Linked DNA regions of Homo sapiens. The gene in region 2 interacts genetically with the main gene of each other region. Each region holds a gene or a part of one and is shown on either strand. Other genes may lie near its edges.

What was found.
Region 1: changes in UBE2J1 (region 2) and TRAPPC13 together harm fitness more than expected from each alone (negative genetic interaction), as found in Homo sapiens cells (one large-scale study listed by BioGRID).
Region 3: changes in UBE2J1 (region 2) and SEC31A together harm fitness less than expected from each alone (positive genetic interaction), as found in Homo sapiens cells (one large-scale study listed by BioGRID).
Region 4: changes in UBE2J1 (region 2) and TRAPPC11 together harm fitness less than expected from each alone (positive genetic interaction), as found in Homo sapiens cells (one large-scale study listed by BioGRID).

What each region holds. Positions count from the first base shown.
Region 1 is NC_000005.10:65,628,027-65,631,526, forward strand, and holds part of TRAPPC13 (trafficking protein particle complex subunit 13), read left to right. Parts: intron 1-1,441; exon of another isoform or gene 1,442-1,561; coding exon of another isoform or gene 1,562-2,314; exon of another isoform or gene 2,315-2,902; intron 2,903-3,500. Other genes in the region: SHLD3 (shieldin complex subunit 3), read left to right, coding at 1,562-2,314.
Region 2 is NC_000006.12:89,328,723-89,332,222, reverse strand, and holds part of UBE2J1 (ubiquitin-conjugating enzyme E2 J1), read left to right. Parts: intron 1-2,235; coding exon of another isoform or gene 2,236-2,265; coding exon 2,266-2,544; 3' UTR 2,545-3,500. UniProt on the Homo sapiens protein: Catalyzes the covalent attachment of ubiquitin to other proteins. Functions in the selective degradation of misfolded membrane proteins from the endoplasmic reticulum (ERAD) and is essential for cells to recover from ER stress.
Region 3 is NC_000004.12:82,860,154-82,863,653, forward strand, and holds part of SEC31A (protein transport protein Sec31A), read right to left. Parts: intron 3,240-3,500; coding exon 3,165-3,239; intron 2,420-3,164; coding exon 2,381-2,419; intron 1,556-2,380; coding exon 1,478-1,555; intron 1-1,477. UniProt on the Homo sapiens protein: Component of the coat protein complex II (COPII) which promotes the formation of transport vesicles from the endoplasmic reticulum (ER).
Region 4 is NC_000004.12:183,662,293-183,665,792, forward strand, and holds part of TRAPPC11 (trafficking protein particle complex subunit 11), read left to right. Parts: intron 1-1,554; 5' UTR 1,555-1,575; coding exon 1,576-1,779; intron 1,780-3,500. UniProt on the Homo sapiens protein: Involved in endoplasmic reticulum to Golgi apparatus trafficking at a very early stage.

The DNA of each region.
Region 1 (3,500 bases), on a different chromosome or scaffold from region 2:
TTATTTTTTTCTGCTGTTGTTAGGATGTGAAAAAGTCTGTTTTATGGCTCTTACAGCTTTGGGCCTGATTAGCAAGCCTAACTTGCAGATATTGGAAGGCTCCATTCTTGAGCCTATGCACCATATGCTGGAATTTATTATCAGTGACTTAATTTGGGGCAACTTGAGGACTTCTGTGCTCTAAGAGAAAAAAATAGGAGTCTAGACTTCTTGTTCTCTTCCAAACTGGAATTCAAAAGCCATGGTATTGGGGTCTCCATACTGTTTAATTGCCTGGATTATGAGGAGAAGACAGTGTCACAAAACTGGTTCTTAGCCTGGTTAAACCATATTAGCAAAGTTAAACCATATTAATGGTTTTAGTTTTTACTACAGAGAATGACGTGAAATCATCAAATATTCTATCTATATATTTGTTTGGTGGAATCCATATAATTTTTTTTTTTTTTTTGAGACGGAGTCTTGCCCTGTCACCCAGGCTGGAGTGCAATGGGAGTACGATGGCGCGATCTCAGTTCACTGCAAACCTCAACCTCCCGGGTTCAAGCGATTCTCCTCCCTCAGCCTCCTGAGTAGCTGGGATTACAGGCACACGCCACCACAGCCGGCTATTTTTTGTATCTTTAGTAGAGCCGGAGTTTCACCATGTTGGCCAGGCTGGTCTCAAGCTCCTGACCTCGTGATCTGCCCGCCTTGGCCCCCATAAAGTTCTGGGATTACAGGCATGAGCCACCGCACCTGGCAAATCTACATAATTTTAAGTATAAAATGATTAATTTTCTTCCAGACAGATTAGAATTTTTTTTTTTTTTAATGAGATGAAGTCTTGCTCTATCGCCCAGGCTGAGTGGCATGATCTTGGCTCACTGCAACCTCTGGCTCCCAGGTTCAAGCTATTCTCCTGCCTCAGCTTCCCTAGTAGCTGGGACTACAGGCATGCGCCACCACACCCAGCTAATTTTTTTTTGTATTTTGAGTAGAGATGGGTTTTCACCATGTTGGATTAGAATTTACAGTGATTTCATTGTCCTCAATTTAGTTGCCTCAAATTTTTAAATATTACATTTTTTGTTAATTCATATGAAAACAATATTTTAAGAATCATTCATTTACTCTTTGTTTCTGCTAAAGTTTTAAGACTATTATTACTTAATATATTAATATCGATACTTCCAAGTCCTTTATATCTATTGAGTTAAACATGTTGACTACTAGCGTTTTTAGGCAGGAAGTGATTTTATAGGGCATCTAGTTCAGATCCCTTATTTTGGTAAGAGAAAGAATTTTCAGGTTTGTAGATTACATTCACATTTACCAATAGCACTTTGGTAAAATACCACATTGGGATTGGTTTTTGTTTTTTGTTTTTCCTTTTCTCCCTGCCTGTTGGTAGGCAGGGTATCCCTACCATATCTTATTCTTTGCAATACTTCTACTTTAGGTCCTGTTTCCCTCTGATTTGGCAAGAGAGACAATCTTGCAATAATAAATTAACATTCTAGCTCTGAGGAGTTCAACTAAGAAATTTTCTCATCACTAAGAGTAACTGGATTACTGCAGAATGACTACAGAAGTAATATTACATTATCGACCATGTGAGAGTGATCCCACACAACTGCCAAAAATTGCAGAAAAAGCAATTCAAGACTTTCCTACTCGTCCGCTATCAAGATTTATACCTTGGTTTCCATATGATGGGTCCAAGCTTCCACTCAGACCTAAAAGATCACCACCTGTGATTTCTGAAGAGGCAGCTGAAGATGTGAAACAGTACTTAACCATTTCAGAACATGATGCTAAGTCACACAGTTATGATTGCACAGTAGATCTATTGGAGTTTCAACCTAGCTTGAAAAAGCAGCATTTAACCTGGTCACACACACTGAAGGAACAGACTAATTCTGGAAATCTGGGTAAACAATCAGAAAAGGGAAAACAGCACAAGAGGAGATCTTGGAGTATTTCCCTTCCCAGCAATAATTGTACTAAAAACGTTTCTCCTTTGTCTAAAAAATTGCAAGATAGTTTAAAGGCACTAAATTTACACTCACTTTATAGAGCAAGATGGACAATAGAACACACTATTTGTAACAGCCAAACTCTGGAAGACATTTGGACAAAACTCAATCAAATTATTAGGCACAATGAACTTCCATCTTGTAATGCTACAATTCAGAGGCATTTAGGCCAAATATGGGTGTTCTGTGATATTATGTATTGTGAATATGTGGGAAGTCTTCTTAAAGGAAGATTAGCTCTTACTGGAAAAATTAATTTATTTGTGCATAAATATGGTGTTATTTTTAGTATGTAATGAATTCCACTGATTGTCAAAAAGAATATTCTGAATGAAATGAATATGGATTGAAATAGATAAAATAATTTTTACAGGTTTTAAAATTTTTAATGACTTTTTAGAATTCCTAGGCTTGTCAATTAAGTCAAGAAATTGCTGAGTTCTGCTTATTGGCAGCCTTCTTTTAAATGTGATAAATTATTGTTTACACTGAATTTGAAGGTAAAAATGTTCTGTTCCTTTTGTTACAAACTGTGATTGAATTAGTCATGAATTAAGTTGTATAGTTTGGATTTTGGTTAATCTCTAAAATCTAATTTTACTGTATTTTTTTCCTTACCTCAAGTGTAATTTTTTAAAAAATAAAACTCGAAACAATTCTCTTTGGAGTGCTATTTATGTGGCATGAATGTAGTTCAAAGTGGGAGACTAGTCTAGATTTATAATGATGTTTCCAAAGATATGTAATAACAATTGATAGGCTGTTTTCAAACAACGATACAAAATGTATACTTTGCCTAAAACGATAATGTATCCTGTTTTGAAGGAAAGTATCAAATGTTGAATGATTGTTTATTTCTTCTAATACAGATAATTCAGTATTAATGATAGTTAGTGCTAATTATTACTTGGCTGATGATTGGAGTCATTGTAGGTTCCCCATAAGCATAATCTTGTAATTGGTTTTACACATCACCTCATAAAAATGCTCAAAGGGATTAAAACAGTAAAAGTTTTGTAGAAGCATGTATGTTTGTTTAACATATTTAAATGCCTACTTTGCACTAGGTGCTAGGATATACTAGGGAAGGAGACAGACATGGACCTTGCCCTCACACAGCTTACATGTCATTACTACTATTAAACACACCAGCTCCCTAAGAAAAATAAGACTGCACTTAACTAGGAATATAGACATGTTTACCTTGAAGCTCAGTGCCTGTCATGGTAGGAGCTTGATAATGCATGGTAAACATTCCCTTCAGAGGGATTCTTCATAGCCTGAGATGGCTGAGGTTGCTTAAAATGGAAGCCCACTAATTTTTTTTTCTTTCTAACTTTTATTTTAGGTTCAAGGGGTACATGTGCAGATTTGTGATATGGGTAAATTGTGTGCCACAGGGGTTTGGTGTACAAATAGTTTTGTCACCCATGTAATCAGGATAATACCCAATAGGTAGTTTTTTAGTCCTCACCCCCTGCC
Region 2 (3,500 bases):
ACATTTTTTTTGTTGTTGTTTCTCCAGTTTATTGAAGACTTTAAAGGGTGAGGGAAAATTGAAATAGAAGTTGGGCAAATATAGATTTGCCCTTTACCCAGCAATAACGTACGTAAAGTGGGAGTGAATAGTCTTGAGTGAGTCTCTCCTATTCAGAGAGTGAGCTGGGCAGAGAAAAGTTGGTTGAAGAAGAACAGGGTGGTAGTCTAGGGGGACTGAAGATGGAGGTCCAAGAAAAAAGTGTGTAGCGATGAGTTTAAATCATTTTTGTGTGATCCCAATGTAATTTTATGAATTGCAGGGGAAAACAATGAATTAATTTTAAGGTCAATATGTTTTAGTTCAAGATATTGAAAAAGCTTTCTAATTACTTTTTATTTCATAGTTTTTTTTCTAATAGAAGCATTCTATTACAAAAAGGAAGGTGGTAATCTTTTTTCACCTTTTAGGACAGCCTCCTAATGTTTGTGATGTATTTAAATCTTTTGTGTATTTTCAATCTATGTTAAGTCCCCTTGTTACATATTCCAGTTATACTTATTCCAGTTGTAATTTACTTTGTAATTATTTATTGTCTATCTCTCTTCCCAGAATGTAAGTTCTGTGAGGGTCAGGGGTCTCTTTCCGCTTCTCCACTGTATCCCCAGTGCCTGGCTTAGTGCCTTCTATATAGTAGATTGCCAATGTTTGTTTGTTGATTGAATGAATGAATCTTAGGATTGGTACTTTAAAAAATGCTAAGAATACAATTAAATAAATCAAGAAGTTTAAGTAAATTAGAGTGTACAAATAATGATGTTATTATAGTAGTATTTCTTGTTTTGATTTAGTACATAAAACTTAGAATTCTTATTCATAGATACAGGTCATTAATTGAGACTATTTTTAGTGAAAATACCAACAAGCAATAAATTGTCTAAAATTGCAAGTTAAGTTTTTAATTATATTTACATATAAACTATCTCAGAGTATGATTATATAATTTGACCACTATGAAAGTAACTGAAACCTGGTTTGGCTAAGGGTGGTTATTTTACATTAAGTATAATATAAATTAATTGAGATGTTATACATCAAATCCCAGATAAGCTATGATTTTTTTGTTGTTGTTAGCCTGAAGGAGAGGCAAGAGATTGCCACAACTCTAAATACCTCAGATAACATCAGGCCATCTGTTGCTTTTTAATGCAGATATTTTAGCATCAAAAAGCAATGGGAAATGTAGAAATGGGAAAAACACTGAAGGCAGTTTTGTTCTTGCAGTCTGTCAGATTTTCTCCTTTTCCCAGGGTAGGGATCGAGGTTCTGAATAAGCCATTTCATTTTATAATAAAAAGCAAAACTCCCTCACACATGCTGGTTATTCTAGAAAAATTTATATATATATCACTAGGGACTTAACTAAGAATGTGATTTTTTATCTTTTTAAGGGAGAGTCTCACTCTGTTGCTCAGGTTGGAGTGCAGGCATGTGATCATAGCTCACCGAAGCCTCAACCTCCTGAGCTCAAGTGATCCTCTTGCCTTAACCTCCCAAGTAGCTAGGACCACAGGTGGGCATGACCACACCTGGCTAAGTTTTAAAATTTTTCTGTAGAGATAGTGTCTCACTATGTTGGCCAGACTGGTCTCAGATGCCTGGGCTCAAGCAGTCCTCCTGCCTCAACCTCCCAAAGTGCTGTATGATTGTTTTAAATAGGAAAAAATTTAGAATTTTATAATATCAAGGCACTTAATTTTTAGTTAGTGATATACCATCCAAAAGGCATCTGAGGCTGGGCACGTTGGTTCATGCCTATAATCCCAGCACTTTGGGAGGCCAAGGCAGGAGGATCGCTTGATCCCAGGAGTTCAAGACCAGCCTGGGCAATGTAACAAGATCCCATCTCTAAAAAAATAATGATTAAAAAAATAGAGACAAAAGGCATCTGAAACATAGGAACCTAATTAAAACATTATATGTATATACATATTTTCATTAAGCGTATGTGTTAAAATATCATCTAGACCAATGTTTTAAGGGATTGTTTTTCTAAATATATTAATAAAACTATTAAAAGGCCAAAAAGCTGTCCTAACTTATGACTTTTTTTTGAACCTAAATTTAGATGCCCCTCAAGGGATGTATTATTAGTAACAATCATTCTTGGTAGTGTTGCCCTTAGTCATATGTTGTCCTCTGAGATTGTGTATTCTTGAATAGATAACAAGTGTATTTACAAATCTTCTTTGCCAGTTTCAAACAAAGTTTCTTAAAATTTCCTAGTACGGACTCCAGAATTCCTCAGCAGCATCCTTTCATCAACCTACCCAACCTGTAGCTAAGAATACCTCCATGAGCCCTCGACAGCGCCGGGCCCAGCAGCAGAGTCAGAGAAGGTTGTCTACTTCACCAGATGTAATCCAGGGCCACCAGCCAAGAGACAACCACACTGATCATGGTGGGTCAGCTGTACTGATTGTCATCCTGACTTTGGCATTGGCAGCTCTTATATTCCGACGAATATATCTGGCAAACGAATACATATTTGACTTTGAGTTATAATATGGTTTTGTGACTTATGAGCTGTGACTCAACTGCTTCATTAAACATTCTGCATTGGGTATAATCTAAGAATTGTTTACAAAAAGATTATTTTGTATTTACCCTTCATTCCTTTTTTTGATCCTTGTAAGTTTAGTATAAATATATCTAGACATTCAGACTGTGTCTAGCAGTTACGTCCTGCTTAAAGGGACTAGAAGTCAAAGTTCCTTGTCTCACTATTTGATCTGCTTTGCAGGGAAATAACTTGTTTTTTCTCATGTTTCATCTTCTTTTTATGTAAATTTGTAATACTTTCCTATATTGCCCTTTGAAATTTTTGGATAAAAGATGATGTTTTAAGTTCCAATGAGTATTACTAGTTACTCAATACCACTTATTGAGTACTCTGTTTCTACGTATGTAGAATGTATAGGGATAGAAGAGTTGAAAAGGGAAAGCAAAACTCCTCAAGTAGCTTCCTTAAAATGTCATTCATAGGAGATGTACTGGAATTGCTCATTCTGTGACTTTATTTGTGTCCTAAACATTCTTCAGTGAAAATAATTTTATTTCAGTCAAACATTTATGAGGAAATGAGATCACATCTTTGTCACTGGATGCTACTTGAAGAGGGAGTACTTTGTAACCACTTTGATATGCTGTTATCACCACCCCCTGCCCTCTGCTGCCATAATCACACAAATTTAAAAAGAAAGAAAACAGTCTTCCATAGATTTTTAAGGAAGAAAGGGCCCAAGCCAGGAGATCGCTTGGTTTTCTTCCAGAAGTTAAATGGGGGGATCTGAAGATTTGAATGTTTGGTCTGCTTTGAAATGTATGTCTTTTGGGATGTATTATATGCCTAGCTTTATAATCAGTATAAATTTTAATTATTCCAGGAATATGCATAATATTGAAATATTTCATGTCCTATTTTAATAGAAAACCTCAGGGCCCAAGTAACAGTGATAGAA
Region 3 (3,500 bases), on a different chromosome or scaffold from region 2:
TTATGGACTTCTGAACGAGATATAAGGTCAAAAAATGCACAATTTATTAGGTATTGAGTGCCTTCAATGTGTAAGCTACTATGAAACAAATAGCTCATTGAGACAAAGGGGAAGATTTTACCTCCTTAAACACATTTTTTCAAAGAACCAAAAGTACACATTGATGACTACTATTTCATTAAATGCATATATTTCTTACCTATTATTCATGAGTGCATTCCCAAATGATCTTCTATTTGATAATACATAGTCTAGTTGTACATAAATGAAAGTACATTTCTCTATGTATCTTACAATTCTGTCTAAATATTCTCAAAATTAGTTCTTTTCTTTTTTAAATCAGACAGGGTCTTGCTCTGTCACCCAGGCTGGAATGCAATGGTGTGATCATAGCTCACTCCAACCACGAACTCTTGGGCTTAAGTGATCCTACCTCAGCCTCCCAAATAGCTAGGACTACAGGCATGTGCCACCACGCCTGGCTAATTTTTTATTTTTTTTTTTAGAGATAGGGTCTCACTATGTTGTCCAGGCTAGTCTTGAACTCATAGCCTCAAGTGATCCTCCCACCTTGGCCTCCCAAAGTGCTGGGATTACAGGCATAAGCAAACATCATGCCTGGCCTAGTTCAAAGTTTTAGTAAAGATTTTATCCATATCCTTTATTCCCTTGTTAATTAAACTCTAGGAGATCCACTTCTAAGGAGAATGATTTTTGCAATCATCTTGTAATAGACTAAATTTACTTATTTTTATAACTTAGTAAAAAATTATACATAACATTCCATAGTCAAGATATCACAAAGAACAATGAAAAAGCCAAAGATGAGATGAGAAGAACTTGTTGATTAATTTTCCAAGATGAAATAAAATTAGAAAGCAAGAAAAGTAAATTACAGATTTGTTCATTAGTGGTTAAAAAAAAAAAAACACCCAGAAAATTAAAAGGAAAAATTAATGATGTAACTCTGTGTTCAAGGACTCTTCTCAATTATTTACAAAAATTATCAACTAAGGACACATTTATTGAAAATCATGACAATAAGTTTAGTGAAATATCCTTTACTTCAACTCCATGTTCAGTACTAATTCAGAGGCCTATTAGCCACTGATAGTTGGCCCAAAATTATAGGCCAAGAAAAACATTAACTTTACATGCAATGCAATGCAGTGAGGATGTTTGAATAAAATCTCTTTTCAGTTTGACATCCTGAGAGTCATCTGACCAAATTATGTTAATCTCACATCAACTGTTAGTTTTAAACCATATAATCCAGAAACAAGGTTGGAGAACTAGAGTCTGGAGATGATACTTCTGTCAGTATAGGTAGATAGATTCCTATCCTAAACATCTCAAAGAAAACAATTTACTTCAACTTTATTTTGCCATAAGTAGTCAAGAAAATTTTCCTTATTTTAATGTGAGATACACAAATATCACAAATTTGTCCAATATAATATGAAAAAAAAATAAGTACCTCTCCCAAGAGCTGCTCTTCAGCAGCAGGGCTCTCCTCCCCATCACTCTGTGCTACTTGGTCAGAGTCTTTAAGAGCCTTTGGTACACAAAACAATTACAGGGGAAGGTGAAGAATGTAGTATTAAAAGGCTATTAGTGAACCAGGAAGACAAAAGACCCAACCAACAACATTCAGAGCTAGTTTAATCATAAGAAGCAACAGTGAGTAAATTTATTTGAGAAATACCATTAGAGGAAAAGCAAAGAACTATTACTGCTAACACTTTCCCATTCTTTTTTTTTTTTTTTTTTTTTTTTTTGAGACCGAGTCTCACTCTGTCGCCCAGGCTGGAGTTCAGTGGCACGATCCCGGCTCACTGCAACCTCCGCCTCCCAGTTCAAGCAATTCTCCTGCCTTAGCCGCCCAAGTAGCTGGGATTACAGGCATGTGCCACCACGCCCAGCTAATTTTTGTATTTTTAGTAGAGACAGGGTTTCACCATGTTGGTCAGGCTGGTCTTGAACTCCTGACCTCAGGTGATCCACCTGCCTCGGCCTCCCAAAGTGCTGGGATTACAGGCATGAGCCAACACACCCGGCCCACTTTCCCATTCTTTCCTACCATTTTTTTTTTCCTGGCCAAAAAAAAAAAAAAAAATTTTATCTTAAGTATTTGAGTAGTCATTAATTCTGTTTTTCCTGCTTTACAAAATTCAAATATGTATGTCAAGAGAAAGGAATGCTCTACCAGCTAAGCTCATGTTATTTTAAAATGAGAATTATTAATTTATTAAAATATCTAGAATAAGCATTTATTTTTATACCATAAAGCATAAAACACAAATTTCTTAAATGATATTTCCTTCTTCGTTATGACCTAGCCAAAGTTTTAGAAGGTAGCTATTTTTAAAGGCCTTCTTACCACATTGGCTCCATCCACTTTGTTCAAGGCCAAAGCAATCTGAAATAAAAATAACAGCTCACCTACTACATGGAATTCTATTTCAGAGCATCCAGCAAATGTTCACCTCTTGCTTCTCACTGGCGAAAATCCACAAAAGTTCTTATAGGAATAGTATGTTTAAAAAAATTAAAAAAGCTATGCAGAACTGGTTCTCCATGGTGCTAGCTTCTTTCACATGGAAGTAATTAGAAATAATCCGACAATCATTCTATTTCCTCATTTTTTGCCATCAGGCATGCAAGTAAAACTTTCATATCAATCTCTTACAAGCCTAAAAAAGTTACAGCCTCAAGAAGTTTAGACTACTAATAAAGTTAAATATAAAACTCTAAAGGAGTGAGCAAAGACATAGCCACTAAGCAGTGGGGTTGTGATGTGATCTTAGTTAGTTCTGCCTGACATCAAAAGAGCACTAATCTTCAATATGCACTTAAAGTGCACAGTATACCTCTACCACACATGCAACAACCTGCAATGCTATAGAAAACTCTAGCCATTTCCAAAGAATGATGAAAGGCTAATACAAGTTACATAGTCATTTATCAATATGTATTCAAAACTCTGGCAACCACTGTGGGTAATGATGGAGAATAAGAAAAAGAAAAAGGGAAAAAACGCTGGCAACCAAACACAAATTATTATTAAATGTTTATTGGGTGATTTGAGATAATCTGTGTAGAACTTTATTTTTTAAAAGTATGATTCATAAAGAGCATGCCATCTAACTTTCCCAAAAGTTTACCTTCTTTCCTAGATCTTCTTTTCTGTATCCTAGAAGTTCAAGGTATTTTCCACGAGAATCATCCTCAAAGTTTACCTTTAAAAAAAAAGACATATTCTTAAAACAAAGACCTACATTTAAAGGCCGAATTTTTATAAGAATGAATCAAATTCCAAAGAGAATTATTAAAAATATCTGAAGTCTACATTCTAAAGATTCACTGTTTGAAGGAATCCAAAGAATAGTGGGTTTTTTTGTTTTTTATTTGGAGACCCAGCCTCAGGAGGTCCTGAGAACATGTGCCCAGAATTATTTTTTTAAATAAGTTATTTATTAATAGTAAATATACTAGTAATT
Region 4 (3,500 bases), on a different chromosome or scaffold from region 2:
TTGTAGTGAGCTGATATTGGGCCAGTGCACTCCAGCCTGGTGACAGAGTGATACTCCGTCTCAAAAAAAAAAAAAAAAAAGAACCTCATGTTGTTACATCCTTTTGCAAGTAAGATTATATTAAAAATATAATGACAGTCTTGTTCGGGATAAACATAGTTTTATATACTTATAAAGTCAGGGCATACGTTAGATTTATTATGGACTGATTCTTAGCTAAAGGACGCAGTGGAAACATCCTCCGAGAGGTTTCCATTCATTGTTAGTTTTTCCCTTACAGATTTTTCTTTAAAGAGTAAATTTTATATTGTGGGAAATGAGACAACATAGCTACTATTTAGATAATTACATAAATTAAAGGCTATTTTAATAATATCCTAGGTATTCAGAAATTCAATATTAGCAATTACAGAGAAATTAGGGGAAGTTTATTATATGTAAGTCAACTGTTTTTCTTTTATATTTTTCTTTCAATATATTTTTCTTTTATAGTTGAAATAGATCATGTAGATCTATTTTAATTTTATCACCTTCTTGCTTTCTTGGTCTACTAATTTCAAAGTTCTGTGTGCATTTTGAGACATTACTGAAAATGCCGATTTGTCTTAAAGTTGACTTCATTTTTAACATGAAAGATTTTTTCTTAAATGTCATATAGTTATTACATTTTAATAGATCTAATTCAGGAATTAAAGTTTTCCCTTTTTCTCTCTTCTGTTTGTTTGACAGTTTGCAGATACTCAAAGCCTTTTGCCTTTTTGTAATGATTATTTTATTTATTTTATTTTTTTTGAGACAGAGTCTCACTCTGTCACCCAGATTGGAGTGGAGTGCCGTGATCTTGGCTCACTGGAGCCTCCGCCTCCTGGGTTCAAGTGATTCTCCTGCCTCAGCCTCCAAGTAGTTGGGGTTACAGGTGTGTGCCACCATGTCCAGCTAATTTTTTGTTTTTTGTTTTTGAGACAGAGTCTCCCTCTGTCATCCAGGCTAGAGTGCAGTGGCGCCATCTTGGCTCACTGCAACCTCCACCTCCCGGGTTCACGCCATTCTCCTGCCTCAGCCTCCTGAGTAGCTGGGACTACAGGCGCCCACCACCACGCCCGGCTAATTTTTTGGATATTTAGTAGAGACAGGGTTTCACCGTGTTAGCCAGGATGGTCTCGATCTCCTGACCTCGTGATCTGCCCACCTAGGCCTCCCAAAGTGCTGGGATTACAGGCGTGAGTCACCACGACCAACCAATTTTTTGTATTTTTAGTAGAGACAAGGTTTCACTGTGTTGGCTAGGCTGGTCTTTAACTCCTGGCCTCCAGTGATCCACCTGCTTCGGCCTCCCAAAGTGTTGGGATTGTATGCGTGAGCCACCATGCCTGGCCTTGTAATGATTATTTTTTTGTAATGATTTTTAAATAGAGATTCATATATTGGAAATGAATATGAGTTGTTTTTTTTTTTTTTTTTTTGAGACAGAGTTTTGCTCTTGTTGCCCAGGCTGGAGAAATGAATATGAGTTTTTAAAAATTAATTATGAATGTATTAACATTTGTATTTCAGGTTTTTTGTGACATCGTAAACATGAGCCCCACACAGTGGGACTTCCCTGTGGAATTATGTTGCCGGCCTATGGCCTTTGTTACTCTAACGGGCCTGGATGTAGTTTATAATGCAGTCCATCGAGCTGTCTGGGACGCCTTCTGTGCAAATCGGAGAGCTGATCGAGTACCAATTTCTTTCAAGGTGCTCCCAGGTGACCATGAGTATCCCAAATGTAGACCCAAGGTAATGGCATTGTGATGGCATGTGTTCTTTCCTTCTCTCTCTCTATGTGTGTGTGTGTGTCTTTTTTGTTCTGTTGTGTGTGTGGAGTTTATCAAGACAGTGGTCACAGTGGTGCATAAAGAAAGCCTTAGGCATTTTCATGTAATACACTGCATGTATATTTAATAATAGTTCTTTTTTTTTAAACTCCAGAGGAATAATTACTTTATAAAGCTTTCTATCCTATGAGCCCAGGTTTTCCCTTTTTTGTTTTTAGGAAAAAACCCAACATAGTCCCCTCTAAAAGGAAGGTCTTGCATTCCCCACCATCATTACTAATGTCGTTTTTGAATCCCATGGTCTGTGCAATGTGGCTCAATTTCACAGATTTTTTGAGCACTTGCTTTGTGATAGGTACCTGGAACCATGCAACAAGCTAGTGATACGAATTTAAGTGAGACAGGTTCCCTATTCTTGAGGAGTTTTACATAAACTAACACAGTTTATTCATTGCGGAATGAAGAAAGGTATTAAGTTCAAAACTGACTTTTAAGGTGAACGACATAGTAAAGACGACTTTACCTTAGATAATAATTATTATCATGATGATAGTATCACTAATAGCTAACATAGTTGTAAAAAAACAGTAAAACAGTTTACTGTTTTAAGCAGTTTATGTGTAGTGATTTGTTATTTATCATAATCTTATGAGGTTGGTTTGAAAGTTAGGTGATAAAACCCTTTTAGTTCTGACCCCTATCCTTTTTTTTTCTTTTGCCCTAGAGCAGTGTCTCTGACATAGTAGTCTCTGGACCAAGTATGTCATCATAACCTGGGGTATTTATTAAAAATGTAGATTGCAGCCCTCCTCTTTGGTTTCTGGGAATATAGGACTTGGTCACCGGCTGATTATTTTTGTGTGTGTTTGAGAACCACACGACAACATTTCATATACTCAGCCCTGGAAACTGAGCTCTCTGAAATTGTGCAAGTAATAGCATCCCAGCCCTGGCCCTCACACGATTATTTTTCTTTTCTTTCTTTTTTTTTTTTTTTTTTTTTGAGACGGAGTCTCGCTCTGTCCCCGAGGCTGGAGTGCTGTGGCGCGATATCGGCTCACTGCAAGCTCCGCCTCCTGGGTTCGTGCCATTCTCCTGCTTCAGCCTCCCGAGTGGCTGGGACTACAGGCGCCCGCCACCACGTCCAGCTAATTTTCTGTATTTTTAGTAGAGACGGGGTTTCACCGTGTTAGCCAGGATGGTCTCGATCTCCTGACCTCGTGATCTGCCCACCTTGGCCTCCCAAAGTGCTGGGATTACAGGCGTGAGCCACCGTGCCAGGCCTACATGATTATTTTTCTTTAGTGTCATGTTTGTGTCAAGAAGGCAGGGAGCCCAGCACAAGCCCTCTTTTCTCTTAATGCTCGAATTCAAGCTGCTTTTCATTTCTCTATTCCCAGCTTTTGGCTGAGTCCCCATGTTATTTTGTGTCAGACTTCCTTATTGACCTCATCTTTCCTTGCTGGAGGTAGACATTGGATCACCATGAAGTGGAGTAGTCTGAGCCAGCACAGCTGATTTGGAAGGAATGTGAGGTTTCAACTGCATCCCTCAGGGCTAACACTCAAATCTACAGCATCCTCTTCCCACTCTGTGGCACTCAGTGCCCAGACTCAAGTGGCTGCTGTGAAGCTTCTGTTTAAGAATTGTTCTCTGCTTTGTACTTCATCTACAAGTGAGGTG